Linked DNA regions of Homo sapiens: region 1 is linked to region 2. The links come from fine-mapping of genetic effects on gene expression. A gene starts in region 2. The other region holds a variant in brackets. All regions are shown on one strand. Distances are from middle to middle.

Evidence for each region. PIP is the estimated chance that this variant, and not a neighbour inherited with it, causes the effect. A credible set is the group of variants that fine-mapping cannot tell apart.
Region 1: its variant is the best candidate, but not a certain one, in a credible set for the expression of LGR6 in whole blood (INTERVAL, PIP 0.60).

The regions. Positions count from the first base shown.
Region 1 is chr1:202,260,271-202,265,270 of GRCh38, forward strand. All of the region lies in intron 4 of LGR6 (leucine rich repeat containing G protein-coupled receptor 6), which reads left to right. Among named protein-coding and RNA genes, the nearest start is that of LGR6, 69 kb to the left of the region's middle. RefSeq lists an enhancer at 3,750-4,250. The variant A/G (reference allele first, on the strand shown) is at 2,400.
Region 2 is chr1:202,190,990-202,196,429 of GRCh38, forward strand. LGR6 (leucine rich repeat containing G protein-coupled receptor 6) reads left to right here and starts at 2,810. Exons shown (of 18, transcript NM_001017403.2): 1 at 2,810-3,212. The coding sequence starts at 3,001. RefSeq lists enhancers at 1,396-2,199, 1,894-1,943.

The DNA of each region.
Region 1 (5,000 bases), 69 kb after region 2:
TCAGGTGATCCGCCCGTCTCAGCCTACCAAAGTGTTAGGATTACAGGTGTGAGCCACCGCTCCTGGACTATTTTATTTTTTCAGACAGAGTCTCGCTCTGTCGCCCAGGCTGTAGTGCAGTGGCACAATCTTGGCTCCCTGCAGCCTCTGCCTCCCGGGCTCAAGTGATTTTCCTGCCTCAGCCTCCCAAGTAGCTAGGACTACAGGCATGTGTCTCCATGCCCAGCTAATTTTTGTATTTTTAGTAGAGAAAGGGTTTCACCATGTTGGCCAGGCTGGTCTCGAACTCCTGACATCCGCCTGTCTTGGCTTCCCAAAGTGTCGGGAATGAGCCACCGTGCTCTGCCAAATTCCCCATTCTTGAGTTCTTCATTTAAAAATTATCTCTCTTGATTGCCTGTAGTATATTTTCAAGTAGTTTTTCCCCCAAGAACAACAGATGGCAACTGTATTTCTGATCTTTTATATAGTTGAGAATATATTTTTTTGTGGCCAACTAACTAATATATTTTTTTGTGGCCAATATAAAATTATTGGATCACAATCTATTTTTCTCAGAATCCTGTAGATAAGGCTCCATTTCCCCCTGACATGCAGTGTGCCAGGAAATTCTGAGGTCAGCCTTATCATTTTATTCTTTCAAGGAGAGCATATTTTTTCTTTATGAATGCTTACAAGATTTTTTTTCTTTATCCTTACAACTGAAATGTTTGCCAGAATGTGTTGAGGTATTCTTTCCACTTAGTTTGCTTGGGATACAATAAACATCTTAAATCTACACTATTCTTTCAGCTCTAATGTTTTCTTTTTATTATTATTATTATTATTATACTTTAAGTTTTAGGGTACATGTGCACAATGTGCAGCTTAGTTACATATGTATACATGTGCCATGCTGGTGTGCTACACCCATTAACTTGTCATTTAGCATTAGGTATATCTCCTAATGCTAACTCTCCCCCCTCCCCCCACCCCACAACAGTCCCCAGAGTGTGATGTTCCCCTTCCTGTGTCCATGTGTTCTCAGTGTTCAATTCCCATCCATGAGTAAGAACATGTGGTGTTTGGTTTTTTGTCCTTGTGATAGTTTACTGAGAATGATGATTTCCAATTTCATCCATGTCCCTACAAAGGACATGAACTCATCATTTTTTATGGCTGCATAGTATTCCATGGCGTGTATGTGCCACATTTTCTTAATCCAGTCTATCATTGTTGGACATTTGGGTTGGTTCCAAGTCTGTGCTATTGTGAATAGTGCCGCAATAAACATACGTGTGCATGTGTCTTTATAACAGCATGATTTATAGTCCTTTGGGTATATACCCAGTAACGGGATGGCTGGGTCAAATGGTATTTCTAGTTCTAGATCCCTGAGGAATCACCACACTGACTTCCACAATGGTTGAACTAGTTTACAGTCCCACCAACAGTGTAAAAGTATTCCTCTTTCTCCACATCCTCTCCAACACCTGTTGTTTCCTGACTTTTTAATGATTGCCATTCTAACTGGTGTGAGATAGTATCTCATTGTGGTTTTGATTTGCATTTCTCTGATGGCCAGTGATGATGAGCATTTTTTCATGTGTCTTTTGGCTGCATAAATGTCTTCTTTTGAGAAGTGTCTGTTCATATCCTTTGCCTACTTTTTGATGGGGTTGTTTGTTTTTTTCTTGTAAATTTGTTTGAGTTCATTGTAAATTCTGGATATTAGCCCTTTGTCAGGTGAGTAGGTTGCGAAAATTTTCTCCCATTATGTAGGTTGCCTGTTCACTCTGATGGTAGTTTCTTTTGCTGTGCAGAAGCTCTTTAGTTTAATTAGATCCCGTTTGTCAATTTTGGCTTTTGTTGCCATTGCTTTTGGTGTTTTAGACATGAAGTCCTTGCCCATGCCTATGTCCTGAATGGTAATGCCTAGGTTTTCTTCTAGGGTTTTTATGGTTTTAGGTCTAACATTTAAGTCTTTAATCCATCTTGAATTAATTTTTGTATAAGGTGTAAGGAAGGGATCCAGTTTCAGCTTTCTACATATGGCTAGCCCATATGTTTTCCCAGCATCATTTATTAAATAGAGAATCCTTTCCCCATTGCTTGTTTTTCTCAGGTTTGTCAAAGATCAGATAGTTGTAGATATGTGGCATTATTTCTGAGGGCTCTGTTCTGTTCCATTGATCTATATCTCTGTTTTGGTACCAGTACCATGCTGTTTTGGTTACTGTAGCCTTGTAGTATAGTTTGAAGTCAGGTAGCATGATGCCTCCAGCTTTGTTCTTTTGGCTTAGGATTGACTTGGCAATGCGGGCTCTTTTTTGGTTCCGTATGTAATGTTTTCTTTCAGTTACAGCTATCATGTGCTTCTGCTCCATTCACTCTGGGTTTAATCCTCTGGAATACCTATG[A/G]TTCTCAAATTCAAATTCAGTTCTCGTTTCTATCTATCTCATATTTATTTCCATAATCTTCGCCCCTTTGTCCTTTTATTCTGACTTCAAGGAGAGTGTCTCATGTTTATTCTCCCCATTGCTAATTCAGTTTTTTGCTGGGCCAGGTCTACTCATTATCACCTACAATGCAAATTTGAATTTTGCTTTTTTAATTTACTTCCCCTGCAGTCTTCCCATATCTCACCTAGTTCCATTTACACTTCAATTTGTCTTTGAAACTTGCCTTTTATTTTATTTTATTTTATTTTATTTTATTTTATTTTATTTTATGCTGTTGTTCTTCTGTCTTAGCTTTTTTTCTTTTCATGGATTTTTGTTCCTGTTTCAGAGAGGTCATGATTTCTTGTACCTTACTGAGGGTGTCAAATAACTTCTACTACACCCTCAATAAATTATTTTCAGAGTTATGATCATCTTTTTTTCTTTTCTGAGACAGGGTCTCACTCTGTTGCCCAGGCTGGAGTGCAGTTGTACGATCTTGGCGCACTGCAACCTCCGCCTCCCGGGTTCAAGCAATTCTCCTGCCTCAGCCTGCTGAGTAGCTGGGACTACAGGCTCATACCCCAATGCCCAGCTAAATTTTGTATTTTTAGTAGAGACGGGGGTTTCACCATGTTGGCCAGGCTGGTCTCGAACTCCTGACCTCAGGTGATCCTCCTGCCTCAGCCTCCCAAAATGCTGGGATTACCCACATGAGCCACCGCGCCCGGCCAGCATACATCTTTTTGTTTGTTTGTTTTTTCTCTATATATCTTCATAGGTGTTTTAGTGAGAAGGTAGCTAAGTTTTCCTCCATTTTAACTGGAAACAACTTGAGTGTGTTTGATTTGTTCCTTCATTTCCTCCCTAGGCTAGAGGAGAGGGATTATGGCTTCAGCACGGGGGTGTGGGTGTGGTGGGTACTTGTGGACCAATCAGTAAGGACTTGGAAGATGCTGAGTATAGGAGGGAACAGCACCATGTGAGGTTAGGTCAGAAGGCTCTAGAAAGAGGAGTTTTAAGCAGAGCTTTGAAGAGAGGATGGAGAAACATCTTTCAAAGAGGGGCATCAACCTATACAAAGATCCAAAGATGAATAAACTATGTACTGTGGGACAAAGAGGTAAGGCAAGAGGCACATTTGCATATGAAATAGAGAACTGGGGGAGATCTTCTGAGAAATTATGCTGGTAAGACAGTCATTTCAGGGAAGGGATCTTGAAGCCCAAGCCAAAGAGTTTGGGGTTGACTAGAAGCCATAGATAATTCTGAGCAAGAGAAAAACAAGATTCCAACCGTGGGGATGATTGTGTAGTCTGTGTGAGTGGATGGACGGATGGATGAATGGAGAAATTGATGGATGGAGGGATGTGGGGCCAGGAAATAGGGAGGCTGGGGAGGGGAGGGTTGAAACTATACAGGTATAACCTCTCCAGTTCTCATACTGGTCACAGAGAGCCTGGGAGCTCTTGGGAATGAGGGAGAAAATAGATTGTGGGAAGGACTGGAACCCTGTGGGAAGCCATGGTTGATATGGACTTTTCCCATTTCTTCTCTCCCTTCTCCTATGGTACTTTTAGAAGTGTTAATATGTGCCTGAATTTTCCCTGGTGCCTATTACTACAAAGTCTGCTAGGACAGCTTTTAAGTATCTTTAAAACTCTGGGATATCACTTCTATTCCCTAAGCCTCTGACATCACTGCCCCCTTTCTGGAGAAGCAAGTCGGGAAGATCTCCATCGGCCTCTTCCTCTACCAACCACAGCCACCCTTTGCCAGGGCAGGCAGCCAGGCCTCAAGCAACCACAGGACCCGGCTCCCAAGCACATCTCAGACAGCCCACGAAGGTCGCCAGAAACCAGCCTGATGTCTGCAATTCAATGGCTGGAGGCTGGGGGATGGATGAGATGGCTTTTTGTAGTTCCCACCCCAGGATTCCGGGATTGTCACCCACAAAGGTGGCCTTCTGCCCAGATCTGTAGGTCTGTGTCTTTGGGGGAAGCTCCTAAAGGCTACACACAGAGGCACTTCCCTGTCTCCCTCCTGGAGGGTGGGTAATTATTTTTATATATTGCTGCTGAATAAAATACAAGGAATAGCTTGGAGGAATGCTCAGGTATCATCCTTTGATGTATACAAAGGAAGCACTTTCTCTGCCCGCCCCCGCCACCACCCCAGGGGTTCTTGCACACCCATCAATGCTCCTGACAGATGGAAGGAAAGGAGAGTTGAGGCATTAGCATAGCCAGGAGAACCAGTTGGAATTGCCTTCGTTTTAATATCCCACCTTTGATCTATTGAGAGGCTGACAGTGAGGGGAAGGATCTTATTAGATGGCATAAATCAAAGCTGATGAAATCACTTTCCTCCAACAAGCTTTTCCCCTGGGTGAGGAGAGAGAGAAAAGTGCTGCTCTAGCTCCCACCTCCCCTCTCTCCTCAATTGTAAGTGGGTATGGAAAGGTTAATTCAAGGCTCCATGCACCATCACCCCCACCCCACCTCTGCAGGGAAGTGGAGTTCTCACTCCAGCTTCTGGTGGCTCAGTTGACCTCCTCTGCTCCCCATGCTCTCTGTCACC
Region 2 (5,440 bases):
CCTGGGTACTTGAGATTAGGGAGTGGTGATGACTCTTAACGAGCATGCTGCCTTCAAGCCTCTGTTTAACAAAGCACATCTTGCACCGCCCTTAATCCATTTAACCCTGAGTGGACACAGCACATGTTTCAGAGAGCACAGGGTTGGGGGTAAGGTCACAGATCAACAGGATCCCAAGGCAGAAGAATTTTTCTTAGTACAGAACAAAATGAAAAGTCTCCCATGTCTACCTCTTTCTACACAGACACGGCAACCATCCGATTTCTCAATCTTTTCCCCACCTTTCCCGCCTTTCTATTCCACATAGCCGCCATTGTCATCCTGGCCCGTTCTCAATGAGCTGTTGGGCACACCTCCCGGACGGGGCGGCTGGCCGGGCAGAGGGGCTCCTCACTTTCCAGTAGGGGCGGCCGGGCAGAGGCGCCCCTCACCTCCCGGACGGGGCGGCTGGCCAGGCGGGGGGCTGACCCCCCCACCTCCCTCCCGGATGGGGCGGCTGGCCGGGCAGAGGGGCTCCTCACTTCCCAGTAGGGGCGGCCGGGCAGAGGCGCCCCTCACCTCCCGAGCGGCTGGCCGGGCGGGGGGCTGATTCCCCCACCTCCCTTCCGGACGGGGCGGCTGGCCAGGCGGGGAGCTGACCCCCCCATCTCCCTCCCGGACGGGGTGGCTGCCGGGCGGAGACGCTCCTCACTTCCCAGACGGGGTGGCTGCCGGGCGGAGGGGCTCCTCACTTCTCAGACGGGGCGGCTGCTGGGCGGAGGGGCTCCTCACTTCTCAGACAGGGCGGTTGCCAGGCAGAGGGTCTCCTCACTTCTCAGACGGGGCGGCCGGGGAGAGACGCTCTTCACATCCCGGACGGGGCGACAGGGCAGAGGCGCTCCCCACATCTCAGACGATGGGCAGCCGGGCAGAGACGCTCCTCACTTCCTAGATGGGATGGCGGCCGGGAAGAGGTGCTCCTCACTTCCTAGATGGGATGGCGGCTGGGCAGAGACGCTCCTCACTTTCCAGACTGGGCAGCCAGGCAGAGGGGCTCCTCACATCCCAGACGATGGGCGGCCAGGCAGAGACGCTCCTCACTTCCCAGACGGGGTGGCGGCCGGGCAGAGGCTGCAATCTCGGCACTTTGGGAGGCCAAGGCAGGCTGCTGGGAGGTGGATGTTGTAGCGAGCCGAGATCACGCCACTGCACTCCAGCCTGGGCACCATTGAGCACTGAGTGAAGGAGACTCCGTCTGCAATCCCGGCACCTCGGGAGGCCGAGGCTGGCGGATCACTCGCAGTTAGGAGCTGGAGACCAGCCTGGCCAACACAGCGAAACCCCGTCTCCACCCAAAAAATACGAAAACCAGTCAGGCGTGGCGGCATGCGCCTGCAATTGCAGGCACTCGGCAGGCTGAGGCAGGAGAATCAGGCAGGGAGGTTGCAGTGAGCCGAGATGGCAGCAGTACAGTCCAGCTTCGGCTCGGCATCAGAGGGAGACCGTGGAAAGAGGGGAGAGGGAGAGGGAGAGCGAGAGCGGAGGCTCGTCTTCTACTTTCAGCGCCATGGCACCAACTGGAGGCCTAGGGTCAAGGTCTGCTCATTTCTTGGTCCAGCTATGCAGCCCCTCTAGCCCTGGGAGGTTATTGGGAGAGTGGAGAGGTGTTGATGAGAGGATCCTGGCATGTGGAAAGACAGGGTGGAAGAAATCCTGGATGCCTCTGAGGTCCCAGGTTTCTAGTATACCCTCTGGCTGGACCATGGGGAGATAGGGCAAAAAAAGGAAGGAGGGGGGCCCACAGCCTGCTCTAGCTCTGCGCGGGGGCTTGGCTCAGCATGGGAGAGACCAGAGAGAGCAAGAGGCTGCATGAAGGAAGCACAGCCAGCTCACTATGGTCTAAGGAGAGAACAGGGATTGACCTCAGTTTTAACCACCATGCCCTTTGCTCTCCAGGGCTCTGGGGCCGGCCCAGGTCAGCCACTTGGTGGGATTCCAGCCTCAGGGTGGCTGAGCTGCAGGTGCAGCACCCGGCCTCCAGGTGGCACCAATCCGCTTACTTTGAGGTGGGCTCTGACAACCAGCTGAGCTGCCCACAGTCCCTCAGACTCCCGAGGTCCTGGGAGCAGGGATCAAGGTGGTCCCCAGGCCGTAAACCTGACAGAGGCTGCAGGAGTGCATTTCCACCCAGGGTGCACTCAGCGGGTGTAACTCCACACCCGTTTCTTTGGAGTCAAGGCCCGGCCTCTCAGTGAGGAGACTGCTCCTGGTTGCCCACCGTCGGGTCATCCCAGCCTGCAGTGGAACCCTCCGCAGCCTGGCCTCTTCCAGGGTAGCCCCTCACTCCCCTCTCTCCTGTCCTAGCAGACAGGCCAGGGAGGGTGGACGAGTTCCAGCTCTGGGGATGTCCCATCAGCTGTGTCACCTTGAACAAATCATTTTGCCTCTTGGGTCTCAGTTTCCTGCAGTGTGAAACGTGGTGGAGGCATGAGGGGCAATGGGAGCCCCAAGGCCTCTTTCAGAGACCTCCTCTGGGTCCCATGTGACCTCGTGGCTGTCCCCAAAGGCAAGAGGGTCCCCAGCCCTGCGGCCAAGGCCCTGGGACACCCTATCCAAACAAATGCAGGTCTCTGACGGGCTGAGCTTTGCTCGCTTGGGTTTCTTTGCTTTCTTCCTTTTTTTTTTTTCTTTCCTGGATGAAATTCCTGCCAGCTCCGAAGGAAGGAGGGAAGAGGAGCGAGCCGCAGTGTAGAAAGTTTCCTTGACTCCTCCTCCGGCTGGGTCTCCCTCCCTTGCCAAGCCCAGCCTGTGAAACTGAATAACGAAGATCACTCAACAATGCCTGCCCCTCTCTGACTGCACCGTCCCGGCGCTCCCACCGCCGCCGCCGCCGCCCAATAGAGCCCCTGGGGCGGTCCCCACCGACGGTGCAGCCCGCCGGGACCGGGAGGAAGCAGCTGCGGCCATCGCGCCGTGCGTCCGCGCCCGGCCGCCAGGTGCCCCAGTAGCCCGACCGCCGAGATGCCCAGCCCGCCGGGGCTCCGGGCGCTATGGCTTTGCGCCGCGCTGTGCGCTTCCCGGAGGGCCGGCGGCGCCCCCCAGCCCGGCCCGGGGCCCACCGCCTGCCCGGCCCCCTGCCACTGCCAGGAGGACGGCATCATGCTGTCTGCCGACTGCTCTGAGCTCGGGCTGTCCGCCGTTCCGGGGGACCTGGACCCCCTGACGGCTTACCTGTGAGTACTGCCCGCCTGTCCCCGCCTGGTCCTGCGGGCTGCTGGCTAGCGCCCAGTCCCGGCCTCAGCAGGGCACCTGCTTGCTTGGTGCCCTGGGGCATGGGCATCCCGGAGAGGGTTTGCCCCCTTCCAAGTTGACCGTTGCGGGACTGGGGAGGGGAGAAGAGTCTGAGACTAAATACCAGGCGAGCAGGGAGACCGGGCTTCCCTGACTTGGCTTCCCCATTGGCCTCCGTGCTTGTGGGCTGACTATGGGAGCCCAGGCTTGGCGAGGTGGGTTCTGGACCCTGAGCGGGAGGGCGCGGGGCTGGCTGCTCCATCTCCTGTTGCTGCATTCTCTTCTAGCAGAGCAGTGCCCGGGATGGTGGCTGAGGGTAAAGCTGACAGAACTGGAGGTGGAGGTGAGGGGAGCGTGCCCCAGTAGGGTGGAAATAATGTCTGTTCTTCTGCCATGGTGAGGACAACAGGGCTGTCACACTGAGGCTGGGTGGCCTTCGTGGGGGCGGGGGGGGCGGGTTTCCTAGAAGCTGGGAGGGGGGCCTTATCCACTCTTGTCTCCTCAGAAAGGGACTCTGCCAGCACCATCTCCCTTCACTGGGGCCTCCTGGCTCCCCCAGGGGCCTCCCTAAAGTCATGTCCCAAGAGGCTGTGTTGGAGACACTAATTTGTGGGCAGGCGCCGAGGCTGAAAACCAGAGAACCATTTTTAGCGTCTGAGTTGGGGTGAGATGGCGCGTGAAGGGGACCCTACTGGGGGCAGCTGTCCTGTCTGTCTGGCTCATGGGAGCTTCCCCTCAGAGCTGGAGGGCTGGGGGCTCTGGCTGCTCACCACCTGGGCAGGAGGAGGGTGAGAGAGCACATTCCAGGCCACCCACCTGCACCCCCAGCCCCGCTCTGGGGCAAGGAAACCTCCTCCAGCCCAGCTCTGCAGGCTCTATCAACTTCCTCAGAGGAGCTGGGAGCAGGTGGGAAAGCCTGGTGGGGCCTTCTGCTGAGGGCTAGGATCCCAGAGTTCCTTCTGGCCTGAGAGAGGCTCCTTATGGCTTTGGGGTTCCAGCACATGGGAGCTTAGAGGAAGAGGAGGCTGGGTGAATCTTTATAGGGGCCTAGCAAGAATTTGTGGAACTAAAGATGCTCAGTGTTGGGAGTGTCCTGGTGGGAGGTAGAGGGTCCCAGAGGGCAACTCTTCATGGGGCTCCTCTCCAAATGTCCCTGTCCCCAGGTTGGGATGTCCCCCTCCACTCCAAAAGGCACAGGCTGTGGGCCAGGTAAGGGAGTGGGAAGAGAAAAATAATGTCCATCTAGAAGGACAAATGGAATCCTTCACAGTGCAGTAGGTGACGGCAGAGGCAATCATGGGAATAAAGGTACCAACTGCACAGAGCCTGGGCGCTCAGCATCTGGCAAAGCAGGGCAGGCTCCGGCCCCACCCTACACACAGGCCAGCCCCTCTTTCAGCAGTTTTCTATCCTGGGAGTATGTGACATTGGTTCATTTGAAGACAGGGTCCTGTGGCTAAAGAGTTTAGATGTGACTTCTGTGGAGCCTTTCTCTGGGTGAGCTGAAGGAAGGTCCCTTGCCTGGGTTGAAGGGGCAGGGGAGATAAGGCCTTCCAGAGCTTCCTTTCCCAGCATTAAGTCTTCCTAGACTGGTTAATGACCCTTTTTCTAGAAGGACTTGGGGAAGGAGGTACACTGTCACCTTTGGAATTCAAGCATCCTACCATCCATGCTGGCAGAAGTTTTTCCCACTAGCTTGCCACAATTCCCTCGGAGCTGTGAAGTCTGCATTTGGGTTCAGTGGAGGTGGGGTTTTCTGAGCTGGTCTGTGTCTTCCTGGGGATTGAGAAAGCCCCTCTCTCTCAAGACTCAGGGGATGCTTCTGAGAGTTGTGGAGAGAAGAGAGGGAGTGGGAGCTATAAAGAGTATGATGGGTCCTGAGGCAATATGGGGAATTTAGCAGTGGGGTCTGGAATATTGGAAGGAGGTGGCAGAGGACCGTGTCCCCTGCCCTGGGCTGGGGAGGGGTCCCATCTGGATGGTGCATGAAGGATTCCTACAGTTGTCCTGAGGGTGTCTCAGAGGAGGAATTTTCTTTCTTTGCCCTCTCTGGAGAACAGCTCTACCAGAAAGGCACCTGAAGGTGGGGTTGAGAGCTGGCATGCAGAAGAGCCAGGGTGGGGAAGTCTTGGGGCTCCTTTCTCTTTTCAGCGATGTTAGGAGATGTCCA